Linked DNA regions of Homo sapiens: region 1 is linked to region 2. A link means that fine-mapping ties the variant in region 2 to the plasma level of a protein whose gene starts in the linked region. Region 2 holds a variant in brackets. A gene starts in the other region. All regions are shown on their reverse strands.

Region 1 (5,377 bases), not on the chromosome of region 2:
CTAGAGAAACACAGCTATCCGGTGGATAAGGAGCTGGGAGCCTATGGTTCAGGCCTGTCTCTACTTGCTTGTGACCTTGGGCAACTTGTTTAAAGTCTCTGAGATGTCATTTCTCCATCTGTAAAATGAAACAACAAGGCCGGGCATGGTGGCTCCCACCTGTAGTCCCAGCACTTTGGGAGGCCAAGGTGGGTAGATCACCTGAGGTCAGGAGTTCAAGACCAGCCTGGCCAATATAGTGAAACCCCGTCTCTACAAAAATAAAAAAATTATCTGGGCATGATTGCAGGTGCCTCTAATCCCAGCTACTCGGGAGGCTGAGGCCGGAGAATTGCTTGAACCTGGGAGGCGGAGGTTGTAGTGAGCCGAGATCATGCCATTGCACTCCAGCCTAGGTGACGGAGCAAGATTCTGTCTCAAAAAAAAAAAAAAAAAAAAAGAAAAAAGAAAAGAAAAAGAAACAATGAATGAGTGTGAGGCTCATGGTAGTATTGGTTCCTGAGAGTAGCCAACCTTATTGGTCATCCCAGCCACGAAGTGAAATGGTACCCCTGGCTTGGGCCAATGAATGAGGAAGAATAATGGCAAATGGGGGTCTATGCCTCCACCCTCCACCACTAGGGAGGTCTCAAGCTTGAAATCCAGTGACCAGGTTTTTAGGTCCTGGACCTGGCCAGTCCTCCTACAGTCAAGTAGATAAGTGGAGGGTTTGGTCCGTTGGGCTACGGAGATAGTGATCAAGGCCGTTACTCTGCAATCAGACTCAGAAATGGCCTCTCAGTTACTTCTCCATTTGTGGGTCTTTTGGAAGAGCAGAGAAGAGGAAGGAATTTAGGTCTTCTCACCCTCTGGGCTGCCTGTCCCTGCTCCCTGAGCCATGGAGGGCTGGGGTGGAATATGGGGAATAAATCTGTACTTTTTTTTTTTTTTTTTTTTGAGACAGAGTCTCGCTCCGTCGCCCAGGCTGGAGTGCCGTGGCGTGATCTCTGCTCACAGCAGCATCTGCCTCCCGGGTTCAAGTTATTCTTCCACCTCAGTCTCCTGAGTAGCTGGGATTACAGGTGCCCACCACCACGCCCGGCTAATTTTTGTATTTTTAGTAGAGACAGGGTTTCACTGTGTTGGGCAGGCTGGTCTCAAATACCTGACCTCAGGTGATCCACCCGCACATGCCTCCCAAAGTGCTGGAATTACAGGCATGAGCCACCGTGCCCGGTCCTACCAATCTGCACATTTTAATTGACAAGGGTCACCCTCCACTCATGTGCCAGGCATAGTTCTGAGAAGCATCCCACAAGGATGCCTCTGAGTTCACCCTGACAAGTCCACTAGCTCTTGGCAGAGACATCTGGCAAATTCAAGGCTTGAGACATGCTGGCCTCTCTTTAAAGTGCAGCAAATTTTGTCTAGAGCTTGGTCAGTTAAAATTTTGATGTTTTGTTTTGCATTAATTTCAATTTTTAAGAAATGTTGCATTAAAATGTTATTTATCTTGAATAGTAAATTTCTTAGTGTCCCCTTAATTTCTTAGTGTGTCTGAGTTGAGAGCCTCCCCTGCCTGATTCTAGTCCAGACCCTGGGGTGACAGAAGACTGGTGGGAGATGGGAGGTGAGGAGGGGAGTGTTGGTTGGAGAGGATGATCTACAGAGTGCTGGAGAGACTCTGTATGGAGCTTTTCATGCTGCCTGTTTGCCAGCCCTGAAGCTATGCCTTGAGGTTGGGCAAGGTGGCATATCCTAGATCAGAGATCCTCAACTGGGGCCATTTTTCTCCCCAGAGGACATTTGGAAACATGTGGAGACATTTTTGATCATCTGCGGGGGTGGGGAGAGGGGCTACTGACATCTGGTGAGTAGAGACCAGAGGGACCATTAAACTTTCTACAACGCCCAGGACAGCCCCTCCACAATAAAGAGTTATTTGACCTCACATATTAATAGCACAAAGTTGAGGAACCTTGATCTAGATCCACAGCACAGAAGAAAGGATGTAGATTTTTCACACATTAAAGATGAGAAAGCTTGTGCCTGTAATCCCTGTGACTCAGGAGGCTGTGGCAGGAGGATTACTTGAGCCCAGGAATTCAGGGTTACAGTGAACTATCATCGCAGCACTGCACTCCAGCCTGGGTGACAGAGCAAGATTTTGTCTCTTAAAAAAAAAAAAGATGAGGACAGGCACAGTGGCTCATGCCTGTAATCCCAGCATTTTGGGAGGCCGAAGTGGGTGGATCACGAGGTCAGGAGTTCAAGACCAGCCTGGCCAGCATAGTGAAACCCCATCTCTACTAAAAATACAAAAAATTAGCCAGCTACTTGGGAGGCTGAGGCAGGAGAAGCGCTTGAACCCGGGAGGTGGAGCTTGCAGTGAGCCAAAATCTTGCCATTGCACTCCAGCCTGGGCGACAGAGCAAGACTCCGTCTCAAAAAGAAAAAAAAAAAAGATGAGAAAGAGGAAGGGAGAGAAAAAAGAGAGAGAGGAAAGAAAGAGAGAAGGTTTTGGAGTCAAAAAGACTTAGAAATTCCAGTTCTTCCACTTCCCATGGAACCTTGGCAAGTTGCCTTCTCTCTTTCTCTGAATCTCACATTTTGCCTCTGTGAAGTAGGGGTGGTACCTGGTGGAGATGATGCGGAGATGAGGGTGAGGGGTGTGTTGCACACTATGCCCCTAGGATGGGTGAGAGCTTGGGAGCACTGAACCTCCCTTTCCCCTCTTGTTTCTTCCCCCCATTGTCTCCCACCAGCTCCCTGGGATCTCCACTTCACTCTCTGGGATTCCACCAGCAGGAGGCTACTCCTGGAGTTAAGGCGTGTTGTTCAGACTGGGGCATTTTAGGGGGCATAAATAATAATTATGCCTGGACAATGGACATAACATCTAGGGCCTTCTGAAGCAAACCAGGGTGTGGGGTACCCAAACAAGGCAGTAGGCCCCAGGAGGCAGGTCCCTGCAGTCCCAGCAGAGAGCAGGGCACAGGGTTGAGAAGACTGAGCAAACTTCATTATCAGCTCCTTTGTCCCCCACTCTGTCCTGGAGCAATCATTCTGGCCTCTTCCCACTTCCCCAAAAACCCAGTATAAAGGCTGCTTCTGGCCCCTGAAGCCAGAGGCACTGAGAGTGGAGGTCTCAGACTCTTGGAAGGTGAGTTCTTTTCTGGCTGCCCAGGCAGGACCAGTGTAGGCCCTGGGAAGAAGCAGCACCTCATAGGGCAAACACGTAGGAGGCCTGTCCTTAGGAACATCATAGCTAAGCAGACCTGTCCCCGCAGGGGCAGGAGTCTGGGCTAAGGGTGATACTGGAGAGCAGCAACGGAGACTGGAAGACAAATGAAATTTGGTACCTGAGTTATCCCTCCCACCATTCCTTTTCTAGACTCTCCAGCTCAGGGTCTGTTCATGGCAAGAGGAGAAAGCAATCTTGTTTGCTCTTTAATCAAACAATTAAACAAATATTCCCTCTATACTATGTGCCAGGGGCTATACTAGACACACAAAGACAGCCCCAAGAAGGACGGTGGAGTAGTGTCCTCGCTAAAAGACAGTAGATATGCAATGCCTCTTGCTCCTGCCCTTTCTCCTGCTGGGAACAGTTTCTGCTCTTCATCTGGGTAAGTCTCTCCCTTCCCTCCTCATGCGTCTTTCCCTTTTTTCCTTTTTCCTACACTCCCCTCCCCCCGCTTTTATTTGCACTCATGAGGCCAGGACCACAGCCTTCCCTCTTTAGCTGATACAGCTCATCTCCGGTAAGATATCACTTGGACTCAGAACTGTAACCTGGAACTTTCTCTTTTTTGTTTGATTTTTTTTTGTTGTTGTTGTTTTTGTTTTTTTTTTTGTTTGTTTTTTGTTTTGTTTTGAGACGGAGTCTCGCTCTGTTGCCCAGGCTGGAGTGCAGTGGCGCGATCTCGGCTCACCACAAACTCCGCCTCCCGGGTTCAAGCAATTCTTCTGCCTCAGCCTCCTGAGTAGCTGGGACTACAGGCACATGCCACCACGCCTGGCTAATCTTTGTATTTTTAGTAGAGATGGGGTTTCACCATATTTGCCAGGCTGGTCTCAAACTCCTAACCTTGTGATTCGCCCGCCCCGGCCTCCCAAAGTGCTGGGATTACAGGCGTGAGCCACCGCACCCGGCAAACTGTAACCTGAACTTTCAGAAGGAAAAACCACCCACCTGTTAAGATGAAGGGCTGGTGACTGCCCCAGGCTTCTCACACGTGCTTTCTCCCACCTTCAAAACACACACTCGTGGTGTCGGCCAGAAGTCAGGTTCTTGTCCATTTGTGGGTGTGACCCGAGAGATCTCTCCTTACCTAACACCAAGGAAATCCTCCAGTCTTGTCTTCAGGTGGAATTCCTAGGAAAGCTCGAGCGACGTTGCTGGAGCTGTCCACGGTGCTGGAACTAGGAAGCTCTTGACCTGATGGCAGGTTACCTCTTCTTCCCAGAGAATGATGCCCCCCATCTGGAGAGCCTAGAGACACAGGCAGACCTAGGCCAGGATCTGGATAGTTCAAAGGAGCAGGAGAGAGACTTGGCTCTGACGGAGGAGGTGATTCAGGCAGAGGGAGAGGAGGTCAAGGCTTCTGCCTGTCAAGACAACTTTGAGGATGAGGAAGCCATGGAGTCGGACCCAGCTGCCTTAGACAAGGACTTCCAGTGCCCCAGGGAAGAAGACATTGTTGAAGTGCAGGGAAGTCCAAGGTGCAAGATCTGCCGCTACCTATTGGTGCGGACTCCTAAAACTTTTGCAGAAGCTCAGGTAAGTAGTAGGGAGGCTACTGCGGAGGACCTGGGGGAAAAGAGAGTACATTCAGTCTTCTGTTCCCTATTCATTTAGGCTAGTGGTTCTCAAAGCCTCGCATGCATCAGAATCACCTGGAGTTGTTGTTAAAACACAGCTTTCTGGGCCTCACCTGCACGACTTCTGATTTAGGAGGGCTGAGGTGAAGCCTGAGAATTTGCATTTACAACAAATCCCCAGGTGATGATGATATTGTTGGTCTGGGGAGAACCACCGATTTAAACAAAAGGCTTTGGTGTTAGAAACGCCTGTGTTAAATTCTGGTTCTGCCTTTTATTAGCTGTGTTACCTGGGCAAGTTGCTTTGCCTTTCAAAGCTTTAGCACCTTCATTTGTAAAACGAAGATATATAGCACCAACTTCTTAGAGTTGTGGTGAGCATTAAATGAGATAATACATGAAAAGTGTTTGGAATAGTCACTGGGCTGTAATAAACTCTCAATAAGCGGTGGTTATAATTATTATGAGTATTATCATTTCCTGTAGGATTGTCCTGACAGCTAATTAAGAAGCAAAAGATAGGATTAAGGGAGGCAAGTAGGTTTATTTTTAACCTGAAAAGGGATGCCGGGCT
Region 2 (5,377 bases):
ACGCCCAGCCTGCAGTGAGTTTTGATGGTGCCACTGCATTCCAGCCTAGGTGACAGTGTGACCCTGTTTCAAAAAAGAAAAATACCATCCATTTATAGATTCTAGCCAATAACTTCCCTGACCCACAATCTTCATTTGTGCAAGTACTGCGGTTGTGCTCTCAGCAATGTGTGCCCCTTCTGGGAAGGACGTCCATTGCCCATGATGATTGTGATGTATGTGCCTCCCACGCACAGGGGTTTCCTGTTCTTTCCTGTTCGTTTCCCTCTCTCTTTCAACAAGTGTTGTTTCTTTCTTTCTTTTTTTTTTTGGTGGTTAAAATGATAATAAAAAATAAAACTCACAATCTCAAGTTAGAAAAGATGCAGAGTACCTGAAACAGTCAAACGATGCTTGGAGGGATGTAAAATGATACAGCTACATTGGAAAATCGTTTGGTATTCCCATAAAATTAAACATAAAATCACCAAACAAACAGAAACACTTTACTCACCAGATTTTAGCCAAGTAAACACTTTAGTTTATGGAAAATCCTATACAGAAATGTTTATAGTGTCATTATTTGTAGCTGTTCTCAAATTGAAACTAACCCAAAGTTGTTGTTTCTTACTGGAGTGAATCTCTCTACTGTTACATCCTCACATCTTGTTTTCACAGTTTCAGAGTTGAAGATGATCGCAGGTCAGTGTTCCACAAGGACCCTCCTTGTTCAGATAGAGGACCCCCAACAGGCCCTATACGTGCCAGGGTTTAGGCTAAAGGGTTTACATCTATTAACTACTGTATAACTGAAAACATGATACAAAGTAGGTATTTCGGATTATCATCTTTGTATTGGGAAAACTGAGGCAGGGAGAGTTTAAGCAATAGATCTAAGGTCCCCTTGCTGGTTGGGCAAAGTGGCTCACCCCTGTAATCTAGGAGTTTGGGAGGCTGAGACAAGAGGATCCCTTGAGCCTAGATGCTCCAGACCAGCCTGGGCAACATCGTGAAACCCCAACTCTCCAAATACGTATAAAATTAGCTGGGTGTGGACCAATAGTCTCAGCTACTCAAGAAACTGAATTGAGAGGATGGCTTGAGCCTGGGAGGTTGAGGTTGAAGTGGGCTGTGATTGTGCCAGTTCACTACAGCCTGGGTGATTCAATTAGACCCTGTCTAAAAAAAAGGTTCAAAACATGTTAACATCTCACTGCTAGTAGTCAGCACAATAAAGGATCTAATTGAGGTAGCTCAGTTTCTGAAGCTCTGCTCTTAACCATGGGCCCCATTGTTTTGAAAAATACGGGGTCCTGACTGAGGTAGGGTGGGAGCAGGGAGGCCTGAGTCTACTGCTTGATCTCTAACTGGCTGCACCATGGGAATCTGTTACAGGAGGGGAGGCCACACCTGGCCCTGCCTCTCTCACCCACTCTCAATCCCCTGGCAGGTGCCATACACAGAGGCTGCCTCTTTGTCTACTGGTTCTACTGTGACAATCAAAGGGCGACCACTTGCCTGTTTCTTGTGAGTACTCCATGGTGCAAAGATGGGAGGTGGAGAAGAGGAAGAATATTTTCTAAGGGGGTGACCTCATGTGTGAATCATGTGGAAAGTCTAGTTGGCAGGATGGAAGTGCCATGAATGTGCAGGTCCTGGAGACCCTCCAGCACCAGGAACAAAACCTACAGCAGCTGCACTGGGGGCTAGTCATGGGTCTAGGAGTAAAGGACACTCAAGGCTTGGGGCTGTGACACTTTATCTATTAAAAGGCATAGAATATTCAGAAAATGGGCAATTCATATGACCAAGTCAGTGACTATGGCTCAGTTTCCATCTGTGGATGAGGGCTGGAGCATCTCTTTCCACCCATGGAGAACACAAGGAGCTGAAGCAGCCCCACAATGACAAGGCCTAGAATACCAACAAGTCTTTGCTCGACCACGGAAGGGGCAAAGAGACTTGTGTGTGTGTCTTGTGTGTGCCCCACAAGAAAGGGACCTGCTCAACACTGTGTGCTCTGCCCTCAGGAATGAACCATATCTGCAGGTGGATTTCCACACTGAGATGAAGGAGGAATCAGACATTGTCTTCCATTTCCAAGTGTGCTTTGGTCGTCGTGTGGTCATGAA[C/G]AGCCGTGAGTATGGGGCCTGGAAGCAGCAGGTGGAATCCAAGAATATGCCCTTTCAGGATGGCCAAGAATTTGAACTGAGCATCTCAGTGCTGCCAGATAAGTACCAGGTGAGCACCCCAGGAGCTCCCCGCACCCGGCTTCCATGGGATCTCAGAGCAGGAGGCAGCTCTTCATGCCCTAACTCCAGATAACTCCCTCTGTCCCCGGCTTTTCATCACCCACAACTCCCCTTATCCCAGGCTTTTCATCACCCATAACTCCCCCTGTCCCAGGCTTTTTATCACACACACAGGGGTTCCCTTTACTTTTATCATTTCCCTCTCTCATTCAACAGGTGTTGTTGCTTGCTCTGCCATCACCTCTCCTTGCACTGCCATCCTCAGCTCTTTTCCCATACCTGACCAGGGTCAATGTCGGTTCACTTGCCATTTTCCCCAAATGGAGAATATCCTCTATCTTCCCCTTATGATGTTATTTAAATTTTCATGTAGCTAAATGGATAAGATATACACATGAATAAAATTGTTTTAGTCAGTCCAATATGAAGACTTCTCACTCCTCAATCCCAATCCTCAGAACAATATTACTAGCTTCTCTACTCTTCTTCCATAGTCTATCCTTATAGAAGCATATACATACACCCATATATACACTTTTATTTGTTTTTAAACAAATGCTGGTATCAATGTCCCTACACATTACACTTTAGGAATGACAGTTGAGTTGTACTCAAAGAATATATATTGGAGAAATAATCTATCCATGGTGCTGCCTCATTTTTTTAAGGATTACATAATATTCCCCTAGAAGGATTTCCTCAACTTGCTGTACTTGACCCTTTACAAGAGCACTGAGTTGGTTTCCAATGTTTTGCTCTCACAAATGTTACTGTATTAAGCTTTCTAATCAACCCTTTTTTCATTGCCAACTTTTCCCTATTTATATTGGAACATGATTATAAAGAAAAGGAATAACTGGTTCAAAGTTGTATGGATTTTAAATTTGAGAATGAAACCTAAAATATGACTCCCTGTGTAGCCTCAGTAATAAAGAATGTGATCAAAGTTTCTGACATTTCAAATGGGTAGGCCAAAACATTCACATTTTATTCAGATTAAAGTCAGAGGTGTTTTTCTATGTTTATACGCTGTTAAAGATAATATCCTCATAGTGGTTTTGATTTGCATTTCTCTGATGGCCAGTGATGATGAGCATTTTTTCATGTGTTTTTTGGCTGCATAAATGTCTTCTTTTGAGAAGTGTCTGTTCATGTCGTTCGCCCACTTTTTGATGGGGTTGTTTGTTTTTTTCTTGTACATTTGTTTGAGTTCATTGTAGATTCTGGATATTAGCCCTTTGTCAGATGAGTAGGTTGCGAAAATTTTCTCCCATTTTGTAGGTTGCCTGTTCACTCTGATGGTAGTTTCTTTTGCTGTGCAGAAGCTCTTTAGTTTAATTAGATCCCATTTGTCAATTTTGTCTTTTGTTGCCATTGCTTTTGGTGTTTTGGACATGAAGTCCTTGCCCAGGCCTATGTCCTGAATGGTAATGCCTAGGTTTTCTTCTAGGGTTTTTATGGTTTTAGGTCTAACGTTTACCGTCTCACACCAGTTAGAATGGCAATCATTAAAAAGTCAGGAAACAACAGGTGCTGGAGAGGATGTGGAGAAACAGGAACACTTTTACACTGTTGGTGGGACTGTAAACTAGTTCAACCATTGTGGAAGTCAGTGTGGCGATTCCTCAGGGATCTAGAACTAGAAATACCATTTGACCCAGCCATCCCATTACTGGGTATATACCCAAACGACTATAAATCATGCTGCTATAAAGACACATGCACACGTATGTTTATTGCGGCATTATTCACAGTAGCAAAGACTTGGAACCAACCCAAATGTCCAACAATGATAGACTGGATTAAGAAAATGTGGCACATATACACCATGGAATACTATGCAGCCATAAAAAATGATGAGTTCACGTCCTTTGTAGGGACATGGATGAAATTGGAAATCATCATTCTCAGTAAACTATCGCAAGAACAAAAAAACCAAACACCGCATATTCTCACTCATAGGTGGGAATTGAACAATGAGATCACATGGACACAGGAAGGGGAATATCACACTCTGGGGACTGTTGTGGGGTGGGGGGAGGGGGGAGGGATAGCATTGGGAGATATACCTAATGCTAGATGACGAGTTAGTGGGTGCAGAGCACCAGCATGGCACATGTATACATATGTAACTAACCTGCACAATGTGCACATGTACCCTAAAACTTAAAGTATAATAAAAAAAATAAATAATAAATAAATAATTTAATAACCATAAAAAAATAAATAAAGATAATATCCTATGTTTTGTAACATTAATCCAGCCCCACCTCTCTAAGAACACTTGAGTTACATTCCTTGCCGCCACTAGCTCAAATATGAGCAATTCCAGAGAGAAACTGGGTCATCAGCAGCAAATAGCAGTCATAATTTATGTAACTGAAATGTGTGCATTCAGTGGACATTGTTGAGCACTTACCCTGTGGCTGGCCCTGTGCAAGATGCAGGGATTCAAGTTTATGAAACACAGTCCCTGGCCTTGGAGATCTTCCAGGATAGAGGGGAGGCTGAGCAAATATGGCCCATGTGACAGAGAGTGACAGAGCCTCACTGGAGAAATGAGAGGAAACATTGAAAATACAGTGAGCAACTGTCTCAGATAGTTACAACAGGTAGTCTGTAAAAAAGAAGTGTGTCTACTGGGTTCAGATATATAATGAGGCATTTTCTGGTTGGATGTTTCAGGTACTATGACACCATAGAGAGCAGGCTGAAAGCTTGTTTGGTGAAATACTGTCTTTCTGATGTATTTTTTTCCTTCTGTAGGTAATGGTCAATGGCCAATCCTCTTACACCTTTGACCATAGAATCAAGCCTGAGGCTGTGAAGATGGTGCAAGTGTGGAGAGATATCTCCCTGACCAAATTTAATGTCAGCTATTTAAAGAGATAACCAGACTTCATGTTGCCAAGGAATCCCTGTCTCTACGTGAACTTGGGATTCCAAAGCCAGCTAACAGCATGATCTTTTCTCACTTCAATCCTTACTCCTGCTCATTAAAACTTAATCAAACTTCACAGAATTTGGTTCTTGCTTTCATGGGGAGAAAAAGTGGTCATCATCAAGAGGGCTTGGGGGATTTTATAGATGGTGTGAACAAGTCAAGGAGGATAAATCTTCCTGAGACACAAAAAGTAAGTGAAAAG

Direction of the effects. Alleles are on the strand shown, and positions count from the first base shown. The strength of an association depends on the size of the effect and on how common the allele is.
As copies of C replace G in region 2, the plasma level of the protein whose gene starts at base 3,106 in region 1 goes up (weak association).

The links. PIP is the posterior inclusion probability: the model's chance that the variant is causal. Protein levels are from antibody-based Olink assays in UK Biobank. Linkage for the fine-mapping came from a reference panel and not from the study's own genotypes, which makes the PIPs less certain.
Region 1: PRG3 starts here. The variant in region 2 is fine-mapped to the plasma level of the PRG3 protein (UK Biobank, PIP above 0.99).

The regions. Positions count from the first base shown.
Region 1 is chr11:57,378,879-57,384,255 of GRCh38, reverse strand. PRG3 (proteoglycan 3, pro eosinophil major basic protein 2) reads left to right here and starts at 3,106. Exons shown (of 6, transcript NM_006093.4): 1 at 3,106-3,142; 2 at 3,475-3,608; 3 at 4,449-4,762. The coding sequence starts at 3,548. RefSeq lists an enhancer at 3,718-4,917.
Region 2 is chr19:39,731,126-39,736,502 of GRCh38, reverse strand. It overlaps CLC (Charcot-Leyden crystal galectin), which reads left to right. Exons shown (of 4, transcript NM_001828.6): 2 at 1,430-1,506; 3 at 2,010-2,220; 4 at 4,998-5,248. The coding sequence ends at 5,123. Among named protein-coding and RNA genes, the nearest start is that of CLC, 4.2 kb to the left of the region's middle. The variant C/G (reference allele first, on the strand shown) is at 2,112.